4 linked regions of the Homo sapiens genome follow. The protein of the gene in region 3 purifies or fractionates together with the protein of the main gene of each other region. This does not show direct contact. Each region holds a gene or a part of one and is shown on either strand. Other genes may lie near its edges. The genes, in order: LIN7A, ADCY9, SLC20A1 and PALS2.

Region 1 (7,588 bases), on a different chromosome or scaffold from region 3:
TGACGGCAATCCATCAAGTGTATAGGGGAAAGCTAGGTTGAGAATCTCTGGCCTATGTTATCACTATCATCCTTTCCATGGTTAAAATACTGTGAATCTATGAAATGCACCTCAGTTCACTAGGAAATCACTATATTTTAACATTGCTTAAGTTACTGCTATCCTGAGTTTACTTACACCAACTTAACATTATTTTTTTATTGTACTGTGAGTCAGGGACTATAGCAGACACTGAGAATTCAAAGATGAATTTAGAAATGGTCTCTTCCCTCACGGAGTTCTATCCAATAGGGATAGACAAATGCAACAGAGTGTGATAAATGCTTTAATGGGGCCAAAGCAGCAAGTCAATTTAGAGCGCATCAAAGGGTACCAAAGCAGCCTGGGAGAGAGGTGATCTGGAAAATCTCCCAGTAGGTGACCAAAAACTGAGTCCTAACTCTAATTAATTGAATTATAGACTGCTAAAGCTGCACAGTGTTAGAATCATCTAATTCAAACTCCTGATGTGGCACAGAGAGAATCTGATGTCCAGAGAGGCTGATGTATGCAGAGTGAGTATCAGAGTTGCAGCTAGGACCCAGATATGTAATACTGGGTTGCCTCTTTAAAAATGCACCTTTTTTGAAGGGAAATTTTTAGAACCTTTTCCTTCATCAGTTTAATAATGAAAGTAATTAATCATATTTGAATAAGATACGGAGAACAATATTTATATATATTGACTTTATGCTCAGTGGTGATGCCAATAACCCATCATCTCTTGGTTATAGATTTTCCATGAGCTGCTGATGAATTTTTTCAGACTCATCCACAGGGTAAACCTGCTTGTCTCCTGAGCTACTGCATGTACGTAATTACACTCAGAAGGACAAGTAGAGTTTGGCTGTGAACAAGAGCAAACTTTAAAAATAAATCTTAGTCCGATTAGCACCTCCTCTCATCAACCGACTGAGGCATCTAAGGGCTAAGGTAAAACCCAACATTGAAATATTTGTATTATTAGTAGTAGTGGTAGTATATAAAATGACCCAGGTATGCAATCTTCTTGGAGTTTTTGCTCCTAACATAGTCACTTGATTTGGGATGTTTAACGACTGTGATTTTGTAATGGGACAATATAAGAGCTCATTACATTAAAACATAAATACTTGGGAAGCTCATAGTTTCTGATAGCTTGCCATCTGTTTGGTTCTTACCGGCAATGGATTTATCCTGCTTAGTGCAGATGATGATATTGTGGGTAAAATCATGGATTATACAATGGATTTCTGAGGTCTTTAACTACTGTTATTAATTTTGCCAGCTTACAAATCAACATTTTCTAATATAAAATCAATTACATTTTATTTTTCAACTCTTACCCTAAGAAAGGTTGCTATGGGCACCACAGAACATCTGTTCTGGCGCCAACAGATTGCGTTAAAGTCACCCACAGTCTCTCCAAATTAAAAACCTCAAACTGAGTTCACTGGCTTTGTTACTGTACTCTCAGCAGGATGTTCTTTTGCCTTGCCCATCGTTCAGTTTAATCCTCTAGAAAGAAAATTTTTAGAGGTACATCGGACTAAATCATTTTCTTCTGAGTACACCATTTCCAAATGGCCGCCCAGGGTCCTAAATCCGGCGGCTGCGGAGAGGGACTAGAGGGTGTCCTCCTCTGCAGAGCCGTAGGACTCGAGCGCCTTCATCACTGGACGCTGGAGCCAGGAAGGAAACCCACACACTCAGGGACAGGTATAACCCCACAGGGGTGCACCAGTGAGGCCCCGATCGCAGCGGAGGACTCCATCCCTGAGCTTGTGAGGGCGTCCTGGGGAGGAAGCGAACACTTTCCCCGTTCAAGTCAGAGAGCAGGACTCACTGGGTGGCAGGTCAGAAGTTGAATTTTAACCCGACCTGCGCTTTGTCCCCGCGCCTTCCGCAGCCTGGGCGCCGCGGTGGCACCGAGCTGGGAGAGGACACGAGAGGCTGGCGCGGGAGAAGCCGAGAGTTGCTATCGACCGGGAGCTGCCGGCGGCGGGAGCAGACGCGACCCTCGCCGCTTTCGATCTCGAAGCCGCGGAGAGCCGATCTCGGCTGCTGGGGCTCGGCTCCCCGCGCTCTGCCTTGCCCTTTCGGCAGAGGGCAGCTCCCTGCCTGCTGCAGCCCCGCCACTGTGCGCCCGGCAGCCCAGGGGTGCGCCCAGCCCGCCCCCCGAGTGGCCGCCGGGACTCCAGCAGTTGGACCGACCCTCGCCCTCCGGCGCCTGGACAAACTTCCTTCCTCCCGGGCCCCTGCGCCAAGCAAGCTGACAGGCGGCTCCCTCGCCGGTCTCCTCTGGGCTCTGGCCGGGCGAGCTTGCTCTCTGCCCCTCTCCAACCCCGAGCCCCTGGCGCCTATAGCCGTCCCCGCGCAGCGGCTCCAACAAAGCCAGAGGACCGGAGACGACCCGGCGAGGGGCTGGGAGTGGCAGCGGGGACCCCAGAGCCAGAAGGAGGCGTCCCCTCGGCGGGGCGAGTACAGTGGGAAGGGGCAGCGGGAACGTAGCGGGGAGAGAAAGGGGAAGAAAGTGTTCTGTTCTCGGCGCGAACGCCTTCCTGGCTCGTCCTCGTTCCCCTTCTCCTCCTGCCTGAGCGCGTCCCATGTCCCGTTGGGAATTGGCAGGCGGGGAAGGGAGGAGGGGAGAGGGGACGCGGTGGCCTGGCGAGCGAGCCGCTCCCTTACCTCTGTCCAGGGTGAGCGGCTGGACCACTGTCAATGTCGCCATGTCTGCCGTGGGAGCCGAAGTGACGCTCGGCTTCAGCATCAGCAACCGCTCGTAGTGAGAAAAAAAGGAGGAGATTGGGGGCGGGGGTGGAGAGGGAAGACGGAAAGGAGGGGGAGGAGGGGGAAGGAAGGAAGGTGGTGGTGGTGGAGAAGAAAGCTTGGGTGGGTTGGTAGCCAGATGGAGACGCAACTGTTCCGCGGCGGCAGATCTTCAGTTGCGGTGCGGAGCTGAGCAGGTATCCGAGAGCGACTGCATCGCCGGGCTCTGGGAGGGAAGGCTCTGCCCTAGAACTTTGCTATTCCACCCCCAGGAGCGCTGGGTGGGTGTAGCTGGCGGGTTGCTTCCTTTCAACTTTCCACTCTAATAAAATGGTCAGAATATACGTGTGTGCATGCGGGTGCGTGTGTGTATAAGGGGAAGAGAGAGGATGGAAAGGGGATATGGGGAAGGGAGTGGGAGATGAGTTTTCTCAGATTAAGAGAAATTGCCAATCCAATAATCCCATCCCCTTTAGAGAGAAAATGCTTCCATTATCAGAAATGTTTGGGATGTAATTACATTTGCAGTTAATTTCTGTTGAAGTTTTTCGGAATGTTGACCTATAACGGCATATAAAGATAACTGACTAAAGGCCAGCGTTCCATCAGTAGATGTTCATTTAGGACCTGAGTATATTGCCTGGAGAAAAAAAAAAAAAAAGGCAAACCTCTTAAAAGTGCTTCAAAATAAAAAACGTGTAGGTAAGTTTCTATCGCTAAGTTTTTCTTTTTCAAGCCACTGTTAATACATTACCAATTCAGTAAATGTAGCTTAGAAACAAGTACAGTGTTCAGATTTTCTCCGAATTTTTTACATACCACATCCTGTAAACATGCCCCACTCCCCCTCACCCACCCAGCAACAAAAACTTTGCTCTTAATGTCCAAACTGATTTTGGTTGTCTATGACTACGTTTGAAAAATATGTACCTAGCACTTTTCATGTTGATTTCTAACCAGTGGTTCAGAGATGCCACTTATCGATTGATTAACATATATGCCAGGAATTGAGATAGAAGAGTTACATTGCCTTGTGCCACGCCTTGATTTAGGAGTTCAATTTAGTCTCCGACTTCCTGTAGCCTGTAATCTAGTGGGAGATGGTGTTATTAAAAACCTGACTTTAGAGTCAGTTGATCAGGATTAAATTACGAGAGCCTTCAAATACTGGCTGTGACCTCTTCGCCCCAATAAAAAGGCTACTTTCACTATCTTGTCATAGTAGGGATTCATTTCCTGACTACGAAATCAAGAAACATAAAGAAACCTTCTATAAGCTGAATAGGGGTGACTGTGGGTGCAGGATTGGAAATGACAAAGCTGCCTCCATCTTGTTTCCTGTGACAGAGCTGAATTGTTTGGGCTAACAATAAACTCTAAAAGGCAGATACTGTTTTATAGCAAAATATTTGCATATAATTGATGCCATTTTCTTCTGATTACAGATAGGATTTCTGAAGGTCTTTTTCATTTTATAGTCTACAATTGAATTTTAAAAAACAACATTTCACCAATGTGGGAAAGCCAAAGATGATTGGCCATATATAGACTTAACAGACCCTAAGAACAAACCTAAAATAGTAGTTCGATATGTTTATTTTTATTTAGTATTTAAGAAAGAATGCTGATCTTGACATTTGAGTCTTAGTCATGTACTCTTCGGAAGTCACACAATCTCTCACTGATCCTGTTTCCTCCTCTGTCATACAATGGAAATAATATCATTCAATGTCACAGAGATCTGTCATATGAGGAAACTAATTCTACCTTGCAATCTCACAGAGTTTTATGAGGGTCTAATGGAGTCATACATGTGACTGTGCTTTGAAAACAGTAAAGAATATACAAATTTATTTATACAAGCATACATCCCCTGGAACCGTGTGGTAAGCTCTGTGCTAGGTGCTAACCATGCAAAGATTAATGAGATGGCCCCCTTTCTGCCCAGTCTTGCTTGGGAGACAGTGAGCAAACCATAAGCTTCTGTGCAGTACTCTAAGCACTATTAAAAGGAAGTGCCCTCGGTGGCCAGAGGTTGCAAAAACAACTTTGGTTTTTTACCGTTATTCACATGCCCTGAATTAAGCAACAGAAAGAAGTTGAGATGAGCGCAATGATACCAGAGTGTGTTACAAGCTTTTGCACAAAGTTATTAAACCTCACTCGGTAACTGAGGATAAAAGAACATACAAATCCCTTGACTTCTAATGTAGTTATTTTACAACATCCTTTATTAGGGAATATGTATTTAAGCAGCTTGATTCATCAGCCCAAAAGTCATAAATTGTACCCATTCCAACACAAATCCCTGATTGTGGTGTCAGTGAAGGTAGAGTTTTCTTTGTCTTTTTGTTTCCTAATGCATCCTCAGGACTAAACATTTCATAGCATATTTCTGGACTTCTGCCTTGAGCTTCCTATTTGAAATTTGCTCTGTCATTCTTTCTCTGTGTTGACTCTGTAGGGTTGTTGTTGTTTTTAAATCAAGATTAAAAGAGAAATTAAAAGGAAGCATAAATCACCATAAATTCATCTGTTATTATTTTTAGTAGTGGAAAGTTCATTCCCTTTAGCTTATGTCTACACAGGTGTAGAAAATTAATAAAAATTCATTATCCATTAGAATTTGTTTTTATGAATAAATACTATCTCTCCAATAATATTTGTGAATTTCGTTTTGAGACATGCAGGGATATACTTGATCTAGTCACATGCCAGTTGCTTTGCTGTGTATTTACCTGAGAATTGTTAAAATATTTGTAATTATGCTTTTATCTTAGCTATTTGGTTACAAAATCACTACACTCTTTCATTAAATGATATGTAGAAATTTAGTTTAATGGTAACTATATTTTCATGGAGTTAACTAATTCAATAAATACTTATTGAGCACTTATATGTGCCAGACTTGGTGCTAAGTTGGTCTCTCTTTCCCTTTCTTTCCAGCCCAGAGAAGTAGGTATTTTTATGCCGTTTTGAAGATAAGTAAACTGAAGCTCACAGAGGTTACACAACTTGCTTAAGAATAGTAGCACCTGGCTTCACAATCTCCTGTGCTTTCCACTAAGAAACATCACACTTTGTTCTTTTTTTTTTTTTTTTTTTTTTTTTGAGATGGAGTCTCACTCTGTCGCACAGGCTGCAGTGCAGTGGCGCGATTTCTGCTCACTGCAACCTTCGCCCGCGGGGTTCAAGCGATTCTCCTGACTCAGCCTCCCAAATAGTTGGGCCTACAGGCGCCCGCCACCATGCCTAGCTAATTTTTGTGTTTTTTATGGAGGCGGGGCTTCACCATTATGGTCAGGCTGGCCTCGAACTCCTGACCTCAAGTGATCCGTCTCCTCAGCCTCCCAAAGTGCTGGGATTACAGGCATGAACCACCACGCTGGGCCTCATCACACTTTATTCTATGTTGTTGAAGATTTAGTGATTTCAGCCTTTTATTTCAGAATTCCAGATAAGTATATATATGGTTATAAAATCTTTTAAGAGATATATAAATATATATCTATTAAGATATATATTTTTAAGAGATATAAATATATATTATAAATATATTTTAATATAATATTAATGTATTTAATACATGTGAAATATATTTAATACATATATATGATATATTATATGTATATATACACACACACATGTCTTTTCTCTCTCTCTTTTATTTTGTGTGTGTGTTGGCTTGAGACATAGAGAGAGGAATGGATGAAGGGAAGTTAGGTCAAAGGACAAAAGAACTATGATACTGGTTCCATTATATATACATATAGGTTAATATTTAAACAACTGCCTATTTGATATATAAAATCTGTTCTTAACAAAATCATTCAAAGCTATGTTAAGGTCGGTTTCACTTAATTGAATTTTTAAAAATTATATGACAAAATCTAGAGAAGGTTTGCATAGAGCATTAGCATACCAAGGAAATGTGTTTAGTTAGATTATAAATGAAGTATAATGAGCACAGTTTCATATGAGAAAATAGCACCTTCAAACTGGAGTTCTTTCAGCCTGGGTGTTAGAAATTGTTTTTGACTGATTCAAGATAACATGTTATCTTTCTTAATTCATACAGCTTTGTCAAAACAGCACTAGATTAAGATGAAGTGCCAACCAATACTTTGAAATTTAAATGTTTATTTTTTAAAACCATCATAGAATATCTTACTATATTTAGTTTATCTTTTTTTTTTGATAACTACTTATTTGTCTGTTCATTCAACAAACACTTAATATACTGACTATATGCCAAGCACTGTACTAGGCATTGGGGTATTGCAGTGAAGAAGAAAAATTTCCTGTTCTCACTTGGCTTGTATTCTCTAAGGAAGAGAAAGTCAATAAACAAACAAGAAAGAGAGCAATTAGTGACTAAGTATTGTGCAAAGAATGAATAAATTGATGACTAAACTAGATCTAGAATAATGTCAGAATTACAAAAGACAGGGATAGGGAGAATGGCCTTATAGGGAGCAGGAGAGAAAAGCCAGGGATGAGGAAGCAGGCACAGTGTGTATTTGGGTAAAATCGGCAGTTCATTTTGGAGTATAATTAAAAAAAAAACAAGCCTAAATAGAGCTATTGAGAGTTAGGTGGTGGAAGGTAATATAATTAATGAACAGAAATACAATGAACCTTTCATTAATTTCTTTGTGCCAACCATACAATAAAATGTATGAATACAATCTATGCTAAGAAAAATATTTGTATCATAGCATCTGCATTAAAAATTACTAACTTCAGAATGAAGAGTTACTAATTCAGAGTTAGATGTTAAAATATTTCGGATGAAATTAAA
Region 2 (7,023 bases), on a different chromosome or scaffold from region 3:
AAGGCAGGTGGATCACCTGAGATCAGGAGTTCAAGACCAGCCTGGCCAACATGGCAAAACCCCGTCTCTACTAAAAATACAAAAATTAGCTGGGGTGGTGGTGGGCACCTGTAATCCTAGCCACTTGGGAGGCTGAGGCAGGAGAATTGCTTGAACCTGGGAAGCGGAGGTTGCAGTGAGCCAAGATCGGCCACTGCACTCCAGCCTGGGCGACAGAGTGAGACTCTGTCTCAAAAAATAAAATAAAATAAAAAAAAGATTCATTAGCAACTGTAGTTGTCAATAATAAATAAATTAACTGATTATACATTTACTCAAATAATACAACTGTTAAAATGCAGTAAATATGGAAAACATTTAAGATTTTCATTTACTAGGTGAAACTATATATGTACTATAGGTACAACTAGGTATTTATATATAGTAAAAATATGTACAAGATTTATACTTAGGATATAATGAATGAGTGATGATTACAGCTTTAGTACTTAAAAGTAAAGCACCTAGCATCTTTTTTTAACCTTTTATTGATGTGTATGTCAGTATGCACAGAAGAGTACCTGATCATAAAAGGACAGCTCAGTGCATTTTCACCAGAGAACACACCCATTTAACTACCACCCAGACCAAGAAGTAGAGCATTACCACTACCCCAGAAGCCCTCCAACCCCACCGCTGCTGACCCCCTCTCCCCCGACCTGACCACCTCCCTAGGGGCAGATTTTAAATGGCACTGAAATATACCAAAGTGTCAACCGAAGCCACGTTTGGCTGGTTAGGACTGCAAGTGATGTTTGCTTTCTATTTTTTTCAGTTTTTCAATCCCTCTTCTCCATGATAACGGATTACACTGTATTTTACTCTAACTTCCATTTATGACTTATAAATTAACTCCTGCATTTAGTCACATGAAATGCCTCTTTTTGAGCCAGGTGTGGTGGCTCACGCCTGTAATCCCAACACTTTGGGAGGCTGAGGCAGGTGGATCACCTGAGGTCAGGAGTTCGAGACCAGCCTGACCAACATGTTTGTGAAACCCCATCTCTACTAAAAATACAAAAATTAGCTGGACGTGGTGGCGGGCACCTGTAATCCCAGCTACTCGGGAGGCTGAGGCAGGAGAATTGCTAGAACCCGGGAGGCAGAGGTTGCAGTGAGCCTAGATCGCACCACTGCACTCCAGCCTGGGGGACAGAGCAAGACTCCATCTCAAAAAAAAAAAAAGAAAAGAAAAAGAAATTCTTCTTTTTGAAGTGGATCTTTGCTATTTGAATTTAGGAATAGGATCGGCTCCTTTGTTCCTTTGGTATTAAAATAGGAAACACACATTCTAGCTGGGAAGCTGTCCTCGTACCTGTTTCTTACAGATGCCTTCTGTTGCGAGGCAGCCCCCTTGGTTTCTGAGTGCACATGCTGTGTGTGATGGCTTTTCTTCCTTGGAAGCAAAGGTGGAAAGCAAACGCTGTGCTCTGCCTTCCTCTCCCTCTGGCACTAGCCCATGTGCTGCTGTCCCTCCTCTGCCTGGAGGGGCCTGGCCTGCGCCCGTCTCGAGTCAGCTGTGCTGCTGGCTCCGGCTCCCGCAGATTAGAGTGAGCTGTACAAGCGATAACTGATTGAGAAGCCCAGATACAGTCTCCCATTTCCACCACAGAGACTGGAAACACCCCCTGCACATAATGGGGATGTTAGACCTTGGTGACACCTGCTCCTAAAGGGGACTGTTCTTGGTGTCACCACTTTGAGAAACCAAAAGAAAGGTCAACTCCTAACCCAACGAGCGGGGCTCACAAAACCTTCCCCCAGTCCATATTCTCTTCCTGCTCTATTTACAATCAACCAGAGGGCTCATGGAGCTGGACAGAAATATGTTTGAGTCATCATCGTAACAAATGGTTATTTTGCTTAGTACTTGAGATGTAGGATATGTAATGTCATCTGTTTCAATAGCAGTTCACGAAATGAGTCAGTGAAGCACAGGGTGTCTTCCCACTGAGGACTCTTGGTTCCTGGTCATAGGCGTTGAGTCACAAAGCCCGTATCAGGGCTCCCAAGACCAGCCCCAGGTGGACTCAGGACTCCGCAATCTGCTCTCTCACCGCTGTGATTACAGCGAAAAGACATAAGGCAGAATCAGCAAAGGGAAGGGTGTGTGAGTTGACGTTTGGAGGAAGCCGGCACCAGCTTCCAAGAGTCCTCTCCCGGTAGAGTCACACGGGATGGGCTTAATTCCTCCAGCAGTGAGTGGTGACAACACTTGTAACATGCTGCCTACCAGGGAAGCTCATTAAAGTCTCGGTGTCCAGGCTTGTATTAGGGGCTGTTCAGGTCTCCCGCCTCTGCCCAGCACGTGCCTAAATTCCAGACTTCCAGCAGGAAAGCGGGTATTCAGCGTAAACCTCCTTATTTAGACAGTGTAGGCAGTGTGAGCCGCTCTTATCAAGGAATGGCAGGAACCCTCCCCAAATCCCAGCTCCCTGGTGCCAGCCACCACCTTTGCAGGCAGGTCTTTCCAAGGATGGCAGCCTCAGGCCTTTCCTGCACGGAACCTTAGGCTGGAAGGGACGTAGCCATGCTCCAGTCCATCTTCACAGCTTACAAGCGAGGAAACTGAGACCCAGAAAGATGGCATGGCTTACCCAAGATTCTGAAACTCCCCCGCGGTCCAGCCAGGATGGGGCCCAGGGGTTCTGTTCCACCCACGGCCAGGGCTTTTGGCGGTTGTGCTTCGCAGAGGGCCGTGATGGCCACACAGGTCAAGCTCATTGTTTTTTAATATCCCAAGAACAGTTAGTGAAACTTATTAGACACTTTGATTAAAGGACTGAGCTTTTGGCCGGGCATGGTGGCTCGTGCCTGTAATCCCAGCACTTTGGGAGGCCAAGGCGGGTGGATCACCTGAGGTCAGGAGTTCCAGACCAACCTGGTCAACATGGTGAAACCCTGTCTCTACTAAAAAATACAAAAATTAGCCAAGTATGGTGGCGCACACCTGTAGTCCCAGCTACTCGGGAGGCTGAGGCAAGAGAATCACTTGAACCTGGAAGCGGAGGTTGCAGTGAGCCAAGGTCGCGCCATTGCACTCCAGCCAGGGCAACAGAGCAAGAAAGAAAAAAGAAGAATTGAGTTTTGGCCAGGCGTGGTGGCTCATCCCTGTAATCCCAGCACTTGGGGAGGCTAAGGCAGGCAGATTGGTTGAGCTCAGGAGTTCAAGACCAGCCTGGGCAAGATGGCGAGACCCTGTCTCTAAAAGAAAAAGAATTGAGCTTTCCAGTGTGATGGAGCTGTCTAAACTGTGGATCCGCCAGTCGCATATATAAGTATATAGTGACCAAGCCCATTATTGCATCAAATCAACTGGCCTACTCTGTGCGCGGGAGGAATGCATCAGGGTACAGCATTTACATGAACAGAACAGTCACGGTGTTGTAAAAAAGAAAAAGACTAGAATGCAGTTCAACAAATGTTAATAGTGATTGCCTCTGGATGGCAGGACGATGGACAAATCTTTTTTGTCTATTTTTTTCTACATTTTCTATGATGAGTATGTAGTATTTTTAAATGGGAAAAAATGTATTCCAGCACACTGGGGAGGCAGAAGCAGAACAGTTTGAACCCAGGAGTTTGAGACCAGCCTGGGCAACATAGTAAGACCTCATCTCTACAAAAAGTTCAAAAAATTAGCCAGGTGTGGTGGTGTGTGCCTGTAGTCCCAGCTAATCTGGAGGCTGAGGCGGGAGGATCGCTTTAGCCTGGGAGGTCAAAGCTGCAGTGAGCTAGGATCGCACCACTGCAGTCCAGCTTGGATGACAGAGACAGACCCTGTCTCTTCTTAAAAAAAAAAAAAAATACATATATATATATATATATATATATATATATATATATATATTTCAAACAAACTTTAAGAAATTGTGCTACTCAGCCAGGTGTGGTGGCTCACACCTGTAATCCCAGCACTTTGGGAGGTCGAGGCGGGCAGATCACTTTAGGTCAGGAGTTTGAGACCAGCCCAGCCAACATGGTGAAACCCCGTTTCTACCAAAAAAAAAATACAAAAATTAGCTGGGCCTGGTGGCGCACACTACTCAGGAGGCTGGGCCGCAAGAATCGTTGAGCCCAGGAGGTGGAGGTTGCAGTGAGCTGAGATCACACCACTGCATGCCAGCCCGGGCTAGAGAGTGAGACTCTGTCTCAAAAAAGAAAAAAGAAAAAGAAAAAAAGAAATTGTGCTACTCACCACTCATCTGCAGCCCCCTGACCATGGCTGTCTCCATCAGTGCCACTGAAGTGGAGACAGCCCCGCTGAAAGCAGGCTCAGTTATCAAAGGGAGCAGAGACTGGGCGCGGTGGCTCACGCCTGTGATCCCAGCACTTTGGGAGGCCGAGGCGGGTGGATCACGAGGTCACGAGTTTGAGACCAACCTGTCTCTAGTAAAAGTACAAAAATAATCTGGGCATGGTGGCGTGCACCTGTAGTCCGAGCTACACAGAAGGCTGAAGCAGGAGAATTGCTTGAACCCAGGAGGCGGAGTTTGTGGTGAGGCGAGATCACGCCACTGCACTTTAACCTGGGCAACAAAGCGAGACTCCTTCTCAAAAAAAAGAAAAAAAAAAGCAGAAACTGGTTCAGCCTTGTTTAGAAGGGCAATTTGGAAATTTCTAAGGAAATTCTAAATGTGCAATATTTAAAATGACTCAGCACTTCCATACGCACAAAGATAGGGGTAGGGGAATATTCCCTGTGACACTGTTTGTGGTAAGAAAAGACAGACTCGGGCCCAGTTCCATCAGGGGGAATCTGGCTAAATTACAGAATTTCCGAGTGCTGGAACACTGCACAGCCATGAGAAAATAATGGCACTGGTTCAGATGTTAGCATTGTCCTGAGTGATTTCGGCAAAAAGAACTAACCCAGAATCAGGGGAGATGGCGTCTTGTCAAACTTTTTTATACAGGTAGAGAGTATAGAACTCATAAAAGCTATTTGTAAAATGATAAGTTTATTGGATTAGAAATCTAAGAACCAAGGCCAGGCGCGGTGGCTCACACCTGTAATCCCAGCACTTTGGGAGGCTGAGGTGGGCGGATCACCTGAGGTCGGGAGTTTGAGACAAGCCTGACCAACATGGAGAAACCCCGTCTCTACTAAAAATACAAAATTAGCTGGGTGTGGTGGCACATGTCTGTGAACCCAGCTACTGGGGAGGCTGAGGCAGGAGAATCACTTGAACCCGGGAGGCGGAGGTTGTAGTGAGCCAAGATCTCACCAGCAACAAGAGCAAAACTCCGTCTCAAAAAAAAAGAAATCTAAGAACCAAATATATCAGAGAATGTTAAATTTCTTGGGTATGATGATGATATTGTAGTTACATAGGGAAATATCCTTATTCTTAGGAGATACATGCTGAAATATTTAGAGCTGAAGTGCCATGTCAGCAACTTACTTTCAAAAAGTTCATTCAGCAAAAAGCCGGGTGCAGTGGCTCACACCTGTAATCCCAGCACTTTAAGGCAAGCTGATCACTTTGAGATCAGGAGTTTGAGACCAGCCTGGCCAACATGATGAAACCCTGTCTCTACTAAAAATACAAAAATTAGCCAGGCATGGTGGCACACACCTATAGTCCCAGCTATTCAGGAGGCTGAGGCAGGAGGATCACTTGAACTCAGGAAGCAGAGGGTGCAGTGAGCCAAGATCGCACCACTGCACTCTAGCCTGGGCAACAGAGCAAGACTCAATCTTAAAAAAAAAAAAAAAAAAAGATGTTAGGCCAAGCACAGTTCAAGCCTGTAATCCCAGCACTTTGGAAGGCCAAGGTGGGAGGATGGCTTGAAGTTACGAGTTTAAGACCAGCCTTGGCAACCAGCAAGACCCTGTCTCTTCAAAAAAAAAATTTTTTAATTAGCTAGGTGTGGTGGTACATGCGTGTAATCCCAGCTACTTAGGAGGCTGGGCAGGAGGATCGTTTGAGCCCAGGAGTTTAAGGCTGCAGTGAGCCATGATTGTGCCATTGCACTCCAGCCTGGACAACAACCATGTCTCTAAAAAAACAAAGGAGAGAGAGAAAAGAAAAGATTTTTGAAAGAAGCTAAAGACTTCTAAAAAAAAAGAAAAAGAAAAAGAAAAGAAAAACGATTACCAAGCACTTACTAAAGATGTTAGTTACAGGGCTGGGCACAGCAGCTCACGCCTGTAATTCCAGCACTTTGGGAGGCCAAGGCAGGAAAATTGCTTGAGCCCAGGAGTGCAAGACCAGCCTGGGCAACACAGTGAGACCCCACCTCTATTTAACAAAATGAAATCAATCAGTTTCAAAAGTTAGTCTTTATCCCTCCATACCTTCAGCCAGCCCAAACCAGGAATGGGCAGCTTGACAGCTTCAGGTTGTTGAAGGCCTGGACTCAACAAAGCTTTGCGTAGCTAGCGGGGCTGTTCTGAGCTTGGAAGCGCCGAGCAGTAACCTCTCCCTTTCCCGTGTCTTTGCTCTCCAGTTCCGAGAGGAACCCGTGCAATAGTTCGGTGCCGCGTGACCTCCGGCGGCCCGCCAGCCTCATCGGCCAGGAGGTGGTTCTCGTCTTCTTTCTCCTGCTCTTGTTGGTCTGGTTCCTGAATCGCGAATTTGAAGTCAGCTACCGCCTCCACTACCACGGAGACGTGGAAGCGGATCTTCACCGCACCAAGATCCAGAGCATGCGGGACCAGGCAGACTGGCTGCTGAGGAACATCATCCCCTACCACGTGGCTGAGCAGCTGAAGGTGTCCCAGACCTACTCCAAGAACCATGACAGCGGAGGGGTGATCTTCGCCAGCATCGTCAACTTCAGCGAGTTCTACGAGGAGAACTACGAGGGCGGCAAGGAGTGCTACCGGGTCCTCAACGAGCTCATCGGGGACTTTGACGAGCTCCTAAGCAAGCCGGACTACAGCAGCATCGAGAAGATCAAGACCATCGGAGCCACGTACATGGCGGCGTCAGGGCTGAACACCGCGCAGGCCCAGGACGGCAGCCACCCGCAGGAGCA
Region 3 (7,872 bases):
CACAAAGTTCCTGAGTTTCCAGCAAGTTGCCTTTCTTCCCTGTTTAAGAGCTGAGAAAACTGGGCCTTGGGGAAAGCGAGAAGTCCCAGTTTAAGTCACCAGAGACGTCTTCCTAAAGAAGTATTCAGGATGCTGTGCTATCCAGAAGCTGGCTCCAGAGACACCTGGACCATTTCAAGCTCTAAGAACTGTGCTTCTGTTCCCTCTGCCTGGCTCCTATGCCATATCACACCCACATGTGTGAACTCAAAGCCAAAGGGAAGAGACCAGGCCATGTGCAGCCAGGACAGAGGCATGTAAAATCTAGAGAGGGTGGGCCAACCTCCCATACTCCTGTGTTGGCGGAGAAATAGACCCACCAGTTTGTCTGGCACAACCAAAACTCAGCTTTCTTGCCATGGGATGCTGGCCTGAGACCAGTCACAACCAGTCTCAACCAGTCTCCATATCAGGGCTTGGCTGTCTGGGTGCTTTCAAGCACCCTTCCCCCACCTGGATCCCAAGCATCCCTTGGACTCTGCCAGGACAGAGCCACAGATGCCGGGGGAAATGGGAAATGACTGGAGACACAGAGGACAGCCACATTCAAAGCTGGTGGGAAAGTGGTGGTGGTGACATGTGGCCCTTGCCTGAAACATTATTTTGAATTTATTTCCTGTAGGAATTGACTACAGGTGGGTTTTGTCTTGCAAGATAGGTTTCCTTTCTTGAGAAATCTCAAGAGAACAGAGTTTTCAGTAACTCTAAGACACGGTTAGGCCACTGCAACAACTTTATTTCTGGAGAGAACATGTGCTCTGGCTTCCTGCCTCTTCCTACTCTGGGGAAACTGGGGCCAATCTCGAAGACTGATCTCCTAGAAATGTCCTTTTTTATTCCAACAGGGTTTGATGCAGCTCAAAATACAGGCTGTAAAAGCAACAGAGTTAATAAAAAGGAGGGGGAAAGAAGGAGGAAGTAAATGTGTTAAGTGCAAATAAGAGTTGGCACCTAGGGCAATCATACTTGCCTCAGTACTTGCTGGCATCCTGGGAAAAGGCACTTACAATCTTGAAATTTGTTAGGTTCTTCGCAGCTTTAACTGCCGCTTCCTTCTCTGTGCCTCCGTTTCTCTGTCTATAAAGTAAGGGGAAAATACCTCATCTGAGATTTATTGAGAGCATCACCTGAGATAATCCATGCAGAGCACCTGAAATAGTACCTGGCACACAGTAAGCATTCAACTGCATCACAGATATTATTATTATTATTATTTTGAGATGGAGTTTTGCTCTTGTTGCCCAGGCTGGAGTGCAATGGCACGATCTTGGCTCACCGCAATCTCCGCCTCCCGGGTTCAAGTGATTCTCCTGCCTCAGCCTCCCAAGTAGCTGGGATTACAGCCATGCACCACCGTGCCCAACTAATTTTTGTATTTTTAGTAGAGACAGGGTTTCTCCATGTTGATAGGCTGGTCTCGAACTCCCGTCCTCAGGTGATCCACCCGCCTTGGCCTCCCAAAATGCTGGGATTACAAGCTTGAGCCACCATGTCCAGCTACAGGTATTATTATTACCTCATTCATCTGGGGATGGGGAGGGCATTGGTGGGTGGAGAGGAGCTGGTTCTCCTTTACTCCAAGGCTCCTACCTTCTCTTCCCTGGATGTTCTCGCCCCTGCTCCCATGCAAGTCCTCACAGACGGCCTCTGAAGCCGCCTTTGTTCCTGGTCTGGTTCCACAACGTTCCCATGCCCACTTGAGCTCCCTCTACTCCAAGTAGACTATTTCCAGGATGAGTACTTCAAGTACATCGAACAGTGACCTCAAATGCATTTCCTTGACTGTGCCTCTCTGAACTAAAAAGTGCAGAAATGTCATTGCTTCCTTCTTTTGTCTGGTCTTCCACAGGGCTAGGTTGGGATCCGGGGGGAGAGTAGCTTTCCTAGCTCTCAGCAGCTCAACTCCACCGAATTAGTGAACGATGGACATGTCCCCAAGAGGACTCTAAACCCACAGTCCCCAACATGGTGTTCTGCAGCATGCCACAGGTCATCTTGTTCTGTCCTCTCTGAGGGTGAGGTTGGAGAGGGACCCTAGGCTCACAGGCTCAGTGACAGTGACTCACCAAAGATCCTGTGGGCAGTCAGGGTCTGGGCCAGGCCAGTGAGCCCATTCATATGGCATGAGCCACAACACTGTTCCTCTTCCTCCGGCAGCAGCCCGTTTTGCGTGTCCCCTCACTATGAGCCGTGGGAGAAATTTGAAAGGGCTTGGATCAGAGGGCAGGGAGAAGAGGGTGGTCCTGACATCTGACACATACTTCATTTTAAACATGGGCTATGTATGACAGGCCTTCAGCTAGTTATTGAACAAAGAGAATAAGAGCCCTTTTACAAGGGCTTTACATATATTCATTCATTTGGTCCTCACAACAGCACTGTGAGTTAGAAGTCTCAATCTCACCCCTTTACAGATCAGGAAACTGAGGCAGATAATTTATTTGCCTATGGTCACAGGACTAGTGAGTGACAGAGCAGGTGGTTTGGTCTTACAGTCTATGTGTTTAACCACTACACCAAACCACCTCCCTAAGATGCTAGAGGGGGTTTGTGCCAATGCCTGGATTCTAAGAGATTAGATTCTCTTTAGGATCTCTGACCTGTTTCCTCAGCATTCAGAGATAAGGCCAGAAACAATGCCATTTGTGCACGAACTGACAACTGACGGTCCTCCTACCTCCTATTTCTATTTAAAAGGCACTGTAACTTCTTTCCACAGGCAGATCCCTACCTCTCCTCCCTTAGGGGAGGACGAAGGTGTCCCAGCCAAGGAAGATCCTGGTCTCCAAGGGCTGTACCCTACTGATCCGGAGGCAAAGCAGTGAGGGCCCACCCCAATTCCTCACCTCCCATTCTACTCTTCGGCAGAAGCATCTCAGTGTTGGAAAGATAAGGATTTCTTCCTAAAAAGGAAGGATTACACTATATCAGAGTCTGAAGATACAGTTTTCATTTGCAACGCAAGGGAATTCCTTTGAATCTCTACCTTATGATTTCCCTGCAAACCCACTCCGATGGGGCTGGAGAGTGCTCTCTCACTCAGATGAATCTCTCAGGGGTTGTCCAGCAGGTGTTTGCCAACTTGAAGAGCTACCTACTATCACAGACCTATAAAAGTACGCCTGTGGACAGACTGAAAACAAACAAACAAAACACACACACAAACACACAAAACAACCGCACACTGGGAGAAGTTCTAGGCAATTTCCTTGCAAATAACTGCTTTGAAAATTACTGTTTTAAATTGGCAGAACACTAAGGACTTTGAACAGATCATCCCTTTTACTCAATGTTTTCATAACCTTGAAGTGAAGGTGGAGGGAGCAGTACGTTTTAAGGTGCCAGGATTACACTACGGGGTCAGTGCTCCCGGATATGAACTTTCTTTTTCAGACCGACCTTGGGACCTACAGCTTTGTAAGTTACTCATACAACTCCATCAAATGTTACAGGTAGGTCAGAGGACATTCAGGTTGTTTAAGCCTCTATAAATGACTCAGGCAGCAACAATTTACAACGTCTTTGTTTCTGCTATGCAGTGCCCTCCTGCTAGAGATGGCAAAAATGTGGGGAGGGCTTCAGAGCATTCTAAGCCTGGTATTTCTGGCTGGAATTTTTAAATCTCACTACAATCCTGACAAGAGACCACGACCTTAATCTCCCACGGCATGACTGGTTAGTCTTGATCGTAAGCCATATAATCAACACCCAAATGTGCATAACACATCTAAATAATGTCAAAACTACACTATATACCACGCAGGGGACCAGAAATCAATCTTTACCTCAAAAGGATAAGCTTCCAGGATGCAATAACATCCCCTTCCACCCTTTTCTACACCCTAAAACAGTAATATTCACGGTAACAGCAAAGCGGAAATCAGCTTTTCCTGAACATGTACTGAATTCTAGTCACATTCACACACGTTAATTCATTTAATTCCAGCCACAAGGTAGGCAGCCTCTGTTAACATTTTACAATTGTGAGAACGCAGAGATCTGGGACTGGCTCAAGGTGACACACTGCAGCAAGGAGTCAGAATTTGAATCCGAAGCAGTGTCCTTCCCCCTCGCAACAGCTGCGGCGTTACAAACACAGGTCAGCCACGGAGAAATTAATGACCCACAGCCATCCTTGCAGCTCTGCGCCATAACTGGGGAGACAAGCTGGTTCCCGTGACTCTTCAGTCTGTTTTCACCCAAGTGCATGACTGCGGGAGCAAAGCGACCACGTGAGCATCCCCCCCCCACCCCCCCGCTTCCCCCAGGCGAGGGACAGTGCCAGGCCAAGGACAAGTCACAGGTGCAACAACGTGCCAGAACTGGATCCGGAGCCCCAGGGCGCAAGATCTCCCGCAGCGTCACCCGGCAGAGGGACGGGTGTGGCCACCGGGCGCGGCAGGTCCTGCGTGCGCTGAAAGTGCGGCTGGAGGCGCGGACGGCTTTCCGGAGCCCCGAGAGAGGAGCTAGGAATGACTTTGGTCGCAGCCTCTGTAACCCCGCATGACGGCCTCTAGGGGGACAGCGAGGTCCCCCTCGATCTCTGGCTGTAATCAGCCGGCGGGGCCAGACGGTGCCGAGACTCCAGGGCGAGGCCGCAGGGAGGGGGCTGTCCCGCCCCACGTGGACCGGCTCCCCGCTGGGGGCGTGGCCGCCGAAGCGGGCCGGGCCAATGAGCGCCACCGTCGGGCTCACCCGGCTGGGCACGCCGGGCCGAGGAGGGCTGCGTCATGCCGGGGGCGGGGCTTCGGGGCCGGCGCGAGGCGCGGCGGGGTCACGCGGGTCGCTGCGCGGGCTATAAGTAGGGGCCGGCGGGGTGCTCCGCTGGAGTGATGGCTGCCGGCGCTCTCTGCGTGGTTCTTCTTCTCGGCCGCTGAAACCCCCGCGGCTGCTTCCTGGGAAGGTCGTGAGTCCCGCTGAGCTGTCCCCGGTGCCGCCGACCCGGGCCGTGTGCCCGTGGCTCCAGCCGCTGTCGCCTCGATCTCCTCGTCTCCCGCTCCGCCCTCCCTTTTCCCTGGTGAGTAGTGGCGCCGCCTCGTAAAGGCTCTTTCTTCTCCCCGGGGCCGGGCGCGGACGCCGTGGCGCTGGAGGCGGACGCCGTGGGCGGCGCGGCTGGCTTCTCTCTTCGCCGCTGGCCGCCTCCACTCCGCCCGTCTGCCCGCCCGCGGGCCTTTTTGGCGGTCCCCGGGCGGCGCGCGCGGGAACGGCCCTTTTCCGATTTTCGCGCGGAGGGCGCGCGCGGGCTGGCAGCGCAGGGGCTGGGCTGGGCGCGCGCGGGCCGCGGAGGACCCGGAGCCACGTGCCTCTCCTTCTCGCGCGTCCTACTGGGGATGGGGGTCTGGAGTAGCCGGCAGAGGCTATTGCGGGACCCCGGGCGCGTGGGTAGAGCGGGGTGCCCCACTGGCCCCCCAGGGGCACGCAGCTATTGTTATTTCCCCCCTCCCCCGCAGGATGAACTTGCGTCCTTTCTCTTCTCCGCCATGGAATTCTGCTCCGTGCTTTTAGCCCTCCTGAGCCAAAGAAACCCCAGACAACAGATGCCCATACGCAGCGTATAGCAGTAACTCCCCAGCTCGGTTTCTGTGCCGTAGTTTACAGTATTTAATTTTATATAATATATATTATTTATTATAGCATTTTTGATACCTCATATTCTGTTTACACATCTTGAAAGGCGCTCAGTAGTTCTCTTACTAAACAACCACTACTCCAGAGAATGGCAACGCTGATTACCAGTACTACAGCTGCTACCGCCGCTTCTGGTCCTTTGGTGGACTACCTATGGATGCTCATCCTGGGCTTCATTATTGCATTTGTCTTGGCATTCTCCGTGGGAGCCAATGATGTAGCAAATTCTTTTGGTACAGCTGTGGGCTCAGGTGTAGTGACCCTGAAGCAAGCCTGCATCCTAGCTAGCATCTTTGAAACAGTGGGCTCTGTCTTACTGGGGGCCAAAGTGAGCGAAACCATCCGGAAGGGCTTGATTGACGTGGAGATGTACAACTCGACTCAAGGGCTGCTGATGGCCGGCTCAGTCAGTGCTATGTTTGGTAAGTTCTTTTTATGTTTTGTCCTCTTCGTGGTGGGTGAGCAAATTTGTATCATGGGTGGTTCCATTTTTGTGCATAACCTTTCCGATTAACCTTTCTGAATGTGCCACTTACATAATGGAATTTTGATATTTACTTAATAAAACTTTACTATGTTTCAGGTTCTGCTGTGTGGCAACTCGTGGCTTCGTTTTTGAAGCTCCCTATTTCTGGAACCCATTGTATTGTTGGTGCAACTATTGGTTTCTCCCTCGTGGCAAAGGGGCAGGAGGGTGTCAAGTGGTCTGAACTGATAAAAATTGGTATGTTTAATTCCAAACGGCTTCTTAATTTTCGTTTTCGTCATATGTTACCATGGCATTAGGTATGGGAGGATGTGTTCTAACGTCGAGGGACAGACCCAAGAATTTTGAACTCTTAAACATTTAAAGTGGTTTTTGGTTTCTGATTTTCATTATTTGATATTTTTTCTTAATGTGTTCTATTCCAGTGATGTCTTGGTTCGTGTCCCCACTGCTTTCTGGAATTATGTCTGGAATTTTATTCTTCCTGGTTCGTGCATTCATCCTCCATAAGGTAACCTTTCTCCCCCGTATGAAGACCTTTCATGGAGCACACCCAATCGATTTCAAACCCAGTGGTACTTTTGCAGATGTGATTGGTGTATAGGTATGCGGCCTTGGAAAATTTTAAAAAGCTCTTTGTTCTGTGCATTTCTTGTATGTTGTGGAGTTCTCTGAAAGCGAGTTTTTAATACTCAAGAGGGCAGTCAGGAAGGAAAAATTGAATACTATGATGTGCCAAGAAGTAGGAGAAACTGGGAGCAAAAAAATAAGGAAATTTATTTTGCGTGGTTTTGTGTAGCTGTATACACATTATTTGTTTAAACCACTGTTATATTCAGGCTAATATAATACGTAAACTTGGAGTTCAAGACAGTGTCCCCTGTGGCTTTTTTAACTAAGCTGCCAGTTAAATGGGTCTCTGCCGTGCTGATTATCATAACCAGTTTATAAGCTTCTAGATGAGGACTCTGCCTCCCATAGTGACTTGACTCCAATTTCTCAGAATAGTTGAAAAGAACCAGTTAAAGGTAGTTTTTGGCCCGCCCCCCAAAAAAACTTCAGGCAGCCATTTAATTTCCTGTCCATTTGAAAATCCCTTTTAAGTGACCCAGTTTGCATTTCTTTTATCAAGAAGTCTTGCTGGCTGCAAAATAAATGTTGACAAGGGATTATGTTGGCATAGGACTGAGTTACAGTGAGGATAAATGCATTTTTCTCAGGAAACAAAGTTGTCCTTTTTCTAAGGTGAATGGCTCTTAACAATCCATTGTAAGTTCTTAAAAGTGTTCCTAAACTGTAGAAATCTGAGGGAGATAGCATAAATCCCAGCAGGTAAGAATGTATTCAGACCCACTTGTCTGGTCTAGTTGTAAGCTTCTCTAGGGAAAGATTTGTCTCTTCTCTGTAGAAATTCTATGACTAGTAAAGTGATTCACTAATCACTGTTTTCCATAGCCAGAATCTGGCAGAATATAGCAGTTTAACACTTTGAAAACTTGAAATATCTTTAGCCTGGTATAATATGAGAGTAAACAGTTCATTGATATTTATGGACTCCTAAGTTTGGTACTGTTTTATTCAGCAGACAGGTACGATAAGCATCTACCTTCCCACTCCCTACAACTGTAGTGTATGATACTGGGATGCTTAAATTAGAGGCTCACCAGTAGTCATGGACCAGATTTTTTTGTTTTTTTTAGAGTTTTCATTAGAACTGT
Region 4 (7,023 bases), on a different chromosome or scaffold from region 3:
TTTGTTGTATTAATGGTATGTTTTAAATGTCTTTATCTCTTAGATATAAATACTGAAGTATTTACAGATGACATGATATCAAAGATTTGCTTCAAAATAATTCAAGGTGAGGAGGAAGTGGGGAGGGGTCTAATTAAAACAAGAAATTGCCACGATTATTGAAGCTAGGCGATCGGCATAGGGACTCATTTATTCCCTCTTTTGTATATATTTTTGAATTTCCATTAAGTAAAAAAGTAGACAGGAAAAAAAGGAAAAAACATGTAATAGAAACTAAACATCAGAACACCCCACTTTACCAATGATAAACCATATAATAAACATGCCTGTTAATGATCTCGGAGCCCAGTTACCCCACTAGTAAAATGAAGGCGTTCAATTAATACGCATATTTTAATATTGGTCCATTTCATTTTACAAAGGGGAACTAAACTTTTGATTTAAAATAAAGTGTACAATGATTTTCAAGTAAAAGAATACTGTTCCAGATCCTAACTACATCTAATTAATTTTCATTCTGTAGCACCTTATATAGCATGTTTATTTCATAAGCATAATTAGCTAAGAGTTGGCCAGGCACGGTGGCTCACGCCTGTAGTTCTAGCACTTTGGGAGGCCGAGGTGGGCAGATTGCCTGAGGTCAGGAGTTCAAGACCAGTCTGGCCAACATGGTGAAACCCCGTCTCTACTAAAAATACAAAAATTAGCCAGGCCTGGTAGCGCATGCCTGTAATCCCAGCTACTTGGGAGGCTGAGGCAGGAGAATCGCTTGAACCCGGGACGGGGAGGTTGCAACGAGCTGAGATCGCATCAATGCACTCCAGCCTGGGTGACAAAGCAAAACTCTGCCTCAAAAATAAATAAATAAAAATAAATTAGATAACAGTTAAACATGCTCAAAAGAAAAGGAAAGATTTTAGAAGGAAAATCGTATGGTTAGCTCACGGTCAGAAGCTTGGTAGTGATTCCTGCATCCACCACAGCCTTGTGCATGGCACGTAACGTCTCTAGCTCCGGAGCCGCAATAAATACCACATAGGGCATAAACTCTGATGTCCTCAATACTTTCAGTGCCTGTGTAAAAGAATAATTATAAGCCAATTTATACAATATTAGAACTAGAATTCTGCTACCCTTTAGTATATATCAAAGGCTGTTTGCACTTGTTCTATGAATTAAAGGACATAACTTAATACTTATCCCTGTTCTGTCCTTCTCATTCCATATAGTACTTTCTTAAAACAGTGATCCATTTATTTTGTTTTGAACTCAGTCTGTTCCTCTTGAACAAAGTATAAAACAATGATCCAAAAATCATCAAGAGTGATGTAAACTCTTTTTTATGTTAATTGTAGAATTCTGTTAATACTCAAAAAGTAGAAATAACCTCAATGTTGATTAATTGGAGAGTGGTTAAATGAATATATATTCATACTATATAGCAATTACAAAGAAAAAAAGCTCTACAGTAACTACCACAAAAAGATCTCCAAGGAATAGTTCTATTTAATAAAACCCCTGAAGAATCTATATAGAATTTTTCCATTTATGTAAAAAGAAACAACAAAAACAGAAAACCCATTACCTTATATATATTTGTATTTAAGGCATAGTGAAATGACTAGAAAGAGACATAAGAAACTATTAACAATTTTTATCTCTGAGTAGGGACGTGAGGTTGGGCTGAGTGTAGCGGAGTGGGAAGGGGTAGGTGACAGAAATATAGAGTGACAAAATGAATAGTGTAGAGGTGTGCATGTGTGTCAGGTAGGAGGGGGAGTGACTTTAATTTTTTATTCTTTATATTGCAGACTTGAGTTTTAAACTTAACATTTCTTAACACAAGCACTTATGCATTACTTGAACAGGTAAATAAATACATACTAAACTTCTATTGTAGATCTAATCACACAGTTTCTATTGCCACCCAAGCCTCTGTTGGCTAATTGTTCAGAGATTTATTTAACTAGCTATGTATACATAATAACATTCTCTATCACCCAAAGGTAATGGAGGGAGTCACCTTTCCACCCTGACAAAACAAACAACCCCAACCCAACAACCCCGACACACATGAAAAAAACTCCACAGAAAATAAAATATAAAACAGCTTTGGAATCCAAGCAGCTTACTTGTGGGTTGACATCCAGAATGCAAGTCCGTCCAGTTTGGACAACCTCAAGAATAGAATCAATTTTGGTTCCATAGAGATTTCCTTCATATTCCCCATGTTCCAAATACTTTCCAGCTTTAATATCTGCTTCCATCTCAGATCGTGACACAAACTTATATGCCTGGCCATCTTTTTCATCTTCCCTTGGTTTCCGTGAAGTAACTAAATAAAATAGTGTTGAGATTTTTGTACAAAGAAATTTTAGGGCATAAAAAATAGACTAAAATACATAGGGTGGCTTAACGTTTTTCCACTGGGTGCAGCAAACTGTAGGCTATGACCAGATCTGATCTGCTTCTTATTTTTGTAAATAAAGTTTTATTGGACCACAGCCATACTCATTTGTTTATGTATCATACATGGTTTCTTTCCCATTAAAATGGTGGTAGTAATTGTGACAGACTGTATGGACTGCGAAGCCTAAAACTTTACCATGTGGCCCTTTAATAGAAAAGTTTCTTGATACCTTAGGGGAATATTTTAAGAGGTAGTCCCCCAAATAAAATTTGTATCCAAAAATATGCTTCTTAAAATCACTTTGAAACTCAAAGTATATTTACCTAGCAGCAGAGCCTTCAATGAAGTTCTTAATTATGGTAAGTGTTTGAGGCATGTTGTGAGTGAGTATCTTTTCAACTGACCAGCACTCTCCTTCTCCTTAGGAATCTATTACATCTTTTCTTTCCACATTAACACTTCCTAACTGCCCCAAAACGTGAGCAAGCAAAGTTCACCTGTTCTTAGTTGTGATACCAATTTTGTAAAGTGCAGTTTTACCCACAAATTATCTATCTTTTATCTTACCTCAAAACCAACGCTTTTAGCTTCCTGTTTATTGATATTCCCAAATGTTAACTGTTCTATTTTATACTTCAGTGGTAGAGCTAGACGCCTCATTATTATTATGGTCTATTAACCTCCTCTCCTCTGACCTGACATATTATTTCTGGGAAAATGAGATTGAATAGCTCAAGTCAAAATTTAGAAGTAGGAGATCCTTTTGTCTGATATTTTACAGCTTTGAATACTTTCAGAGACATACAACCCTTTGCAAGTTGGTCTGTGCTAGGAACGGTTATTACCATTTTTTAAACTGTTGCAAATGTGTACTCTCTGACAACTTTGTTAACAACAGCTTTGAAGAAGAAAAGTAATTTTTGAGCGTGTTATTTCAAGCTTAGCCTTACTCTGGGCTTTGCTGGATCGGATATAAGAAGTATCCTGTTTCTATTAGCTAAGTAGTTGGAGAATAACTGATGGAATTATTAACTACACCAAACTAAACTAAGAAAGTAATCCGAATAAAAAGATGACAGTGTTTTGACTATTTCTAATAAGCCTAAGACATAGAAAACTTTTATAAGAACAAAATGAACTTCAAACTCATGCTCAAAAATAAGGGTCAAATGAGATCATTATGTATAATAGGACTCCTGTTTTCCCCTTGTTTTCTGGCTCAACCTTGAGAGTGGTCGTCTTAGACTACTGTGAAGAGTATTTATAAAGTATCTTTGAGAATCTTCAAGATGCTATGATGGCTTTTCATATTTAAAACTGTGTGATCTTTAAGGTTTCTGGAATTAGTCACCAAAGGTGTGTATAATAAAACTTCTCAATAAATGTAATCCAGCATATAAACAGAACCAAAGACAAAAACCACATGATTATCTCAATAGATGCAGAAAAGGCCTTTGACAAAATTCAACAGCCCTTCATGCTAAAAACTCTCAATAAATTAGGTATTGATGGGACGTATCTCAAAATAATAAGAGCTATCTATGACAAACCCACAGCCAATATCATACTGAATGGGCAAAAACTGGAAGCATTCCCTTTGAAAACTGGCACAAGACAGGGATGCCCTCTCTCACCACTCCTATTCAACATAGTGTTGGAAGTTCTGGCCAGGGCAATTAGGCAAGAGAAGGAAATAAAGGGTATTCAATTAGGAAAAGAGGAAGTCAAATTGTCCCTGTTTGCAGATGACGTGATTGTATATCTAGAAAACCCCATTGTCTCAGCCCAAAATCTCCTTAAGCTGATAAGCAACTTCAGCAAAGTCTCAGGATACAAAATCAATGCATAAAAATCACAAGCATTCTTATACACCAACAACAGACAGAGAGCCAAATCATGAGTGAACTCCCATTCACAATTGCTTCAAAGGAATAAAATACCTAGGAATCCAACTTACAAGGGATGTGAAGGACCTCTTCAAGGAGAACTACAAACCACTGCTCAACGAAATAAAAGAGGATACAAACAAATGCAAGAACATTCCATGCTCATGGGTAGGAAGAATCAATATCGTGAAAATGGCCATACTGCCCAAGGTAATTTACAGACTCAATGCCATCCCCATCAAGCTACCAATGCCTTTCTTCACAGAATTCGAAAAAACTACTTTAAAGTTCATATGGAACCAAAAGAGAGCCTGCATCACCAAGTCAATCCTAAGCCAAAAGAACAAAGCTGGAGGCATCACACTACCTGACTTCAAACTATACTACAAGGCTACAGTAACCAAAACAGCATGGGACTGGTACCAAAACAGAGATACAGATCAATGGAACAGAACAGAGCCCTCAGAAATAACGCCGCGTATCTACAACTATCTGATCTTTGACAAACCTGAGAAAAACAAGCAATGGGGAAAGGATTCCCTATTTAATAAATGGTGCTGGGACCACTGGCTAGCCATACATAGAAAGCTGAAACTGGATCCCTTCCTTACACCTTATACAAAAATCAATTCAAGATGGATTAAAGACTTAAACGTTAGACCTAAAACCATAAAAACCCTAGAAGAAAACCTAGGCGTTACCATTCAGGACACAGGCATGGGCAAGCACTTCATGTCTAAAACACCAAAAGCAATGGCAACAAAAGACAAAATTGACAAATGGGATCTAATTAAACTAAAGAGCTTCTGCACAGGAAAAGAAACTACCATCAGAGTGAACAGGCAACCTACAAAATGGGAGAAAATTTTCCCAACCTACTCATCTGACAAAGGGCTAATATCCAGAATCTACAATGAACTCAAACAAATTTACAAGAAAAAAACAAACAACCCCATCAAAAAGTGGGCGAAGGACATGGACAGACACTTATGCAGCCAAAAAACACATGAAAAAATGCTCACCATCACTGGCCATCAGAGAAATGCAAATCAAAACCACAATGAGATACCATCTCACACCAGTTAGAATGGCAATCATTAAAAAGTCAGGAAACAACAGGTGCTGGAGAGGATGTGGAGAAATAGGAACACTTTTACACTGTTGGTGGGACTGTAAACTAGTTCAACCATTCTGGAAGTCAGTGTGGCGATTCCTCAAGGATCTAGAACTAGAAATACCATTTGACCCAGCCATCCCATTACTGGGTATATACCCAAAGGACTATAAATCATGCTACTATAAAGACACATGCACACGTATGTTTATTGCGGCATTATTCATAATAGCAAAGACTTGGAACCAATCCAAATGTCCAACAATGATAGACTGGATTAAGAAAATGTGGCACATATACACCATGGAATACTATGCAGCCATAAAAAATGATGAGTTCATGTCCTTTGTAGGGACATGGATGAAATTGGAAATCATCATTCTCAGTAAACTATCGCAAGAACAAAAAACCAAACACCGCATATTCTCACTCATAGGTGGGAACTGAACAATGAGAACACATGGACACAGGAAGGGGAACATCACACTCTGGGGACTGTTGTGGGGTGGGGGGAGGGGGGAGGGATAGCACTGGGAGATATACCTAATGCTAGATGACGAGTTAATGGGTGCAGCACACCACCATGGCACATGTATACATATGTAACTAACCTGCACATTGTGCACATGTACCCTAAAACTTAAAAGTATAATAATAAGAGGGGAAAAAAAAAAACCTTAAAAAAATAAAAAAATAAAAAAACTTCTAAGGCAACTTGTAACTCCCCAAATAAATGCATAATAGGACTTGGTTCAACATTGTGAACATTAATTTTAAAAATTAATGTTTTTTCGGTGAAGTCCTACAGTGAAACCATATAGGGGAATGCGCTGCTTGAAATAAATATGTATATGCACATGTATTACCTCTACCTCCATGCTGAGGGAATCTTAATTCTTAGAGAAATGTTCTTTAGTTTACAAGTGAATTTTAACTACAATCCTATTCTCTACTAACACTTCAAAAAACAATCTACGTTGCCACATATTTAAACTGCTTTCCATTTCTAGAACAGAGAAATTAGAACATGAAGGTTTGACTACAACTGATTCCTTAGACTTCTATACTGCGCAACTACATAATGTGATTTTTTAGAAGTAATTTTTTATGATAGGCAAAATTCTCAATTTTAGCTGCTCTTCAAATAATGAAGACACAATCAACAAAGTAATACTTCATTTGTTAACTAAGCTCAAGATGTCAAGATGTCAATGTTAAATTGAAAACAGGATGCATAACATAGCCCATCTCCCTAAAATAACAATGTTTTTCTATTTTATCTTAGGATCATTTTGTAATATATAAAGAAAGTTAAATCACCTTAATTTTATAACAGAAAATTTTAGAAATTCAAAAATATATGGAAAATAAGCAATATACTCCCAAATAACCAATGGATCAAACAAGCAATCACAAGTGAAAGAAAATACTTTGAGAGGAGATGGTGCTGTTGAAGAGCACAGTTACAGACAGAGCTGACCAGGCTCTTCCAGAGTGCCAGTTGTCCAGCAGCATGTTCATTACCCTGAAGATGTATGATGGTTGAACTAAACCCATTCATTCTAAGAAAAGGTTCTGTGGAGGGCTTTAAGCCCTTGATAATTGTCTTAAAA

What was found.
Region 1: the proteins of SLC20A1 (region 3) and LIN7A purify together in Homo sapiens (affinity purification with mass spectrometry; 3 studies listed by BioGRID and IntAct, with this or other methods). This does not show direct contact.
Region 2: the proteins of SLC20A1 (region 3) and ADCY9 purify together in Homo sapiens (affinity purification with mass spectrometry; 2 studies listed by BioGRID and IntAct, with this or other methods). This does not show direct contact.
Region 4: the proteins of SLC20A1 (region 3) and PALS2 purify together in Homo sapiens (affinity purification with mass spectrometry; 3 studies listed by BioGRID and IntAct, with this or other methods). This does not show direct contact.

What each region holds. Positions count from the first base shown.
Region 1 is NC_000012.12:80,934,935-80,942,522, forward strand, and holds the start of LIN7A (protein lin-7 homolog A), read right to left. Parts: upstream 3,001-7,588; 5' UTR 2,789-3,000; coding exon 2,707-2,788; intron 900-2,706; exon of another isoform or gene 802-899; intron 1-801. UniProt on the Homo sapiens protein: Plays a role in establishing and maintaining the asymmetric distribution of channels and receptors at the plasma membrane of polarized cells.
Region 2 is NC_000016.10:3,966,436-3,973,458, reverse strand, and holds part of ADCY9 (adenylate cyclase type 9), read left to right. Parts: intron 1-6,492; coding exon 6,493-7,023. UniProt on the Homo sapiens protein: Adenylyl cyclase that catalyzes the formation of the signaling molecule cAMP in response to activation of G protein-coupled receptors.
Region 3 is NC_000002.12:112,641,074-112,648,945, forward strand, and holds the start of SLC20A1 (sodium-dependent phosphate transporter 1), read left to right. Parts: upstream 1-4,865; 5' UTR 4,866-5,056; intron 5,057-5,489; 5' UTR 5,490-5,755; coding exon 5,756-6,089; intron 6,090-6,250; coding exon 6,251-6,391; intron 6,392-6,579; coding exon 6,580-6,665; intron 6,666-7,872. UniProt on the Homo sapiens protein: Sodium-phosphate symporter which preferentially transports the monovalent form of phosphate with a stoichiometry of two sodium ions per phosphate ion. May play a role in extracellular matrix and cartilage calcification as well as in vascular calcification.
Region 4 is NC_000007.14:24,674,443-24,681,465, reverse strand, and holds part of PALS2 (protein PALS2), read right to left. Parts: intron 2,336-7,023; coding exon 2,133-2,335; intron 1,075-2,132; coding exon 946-1,074; intron 1-945.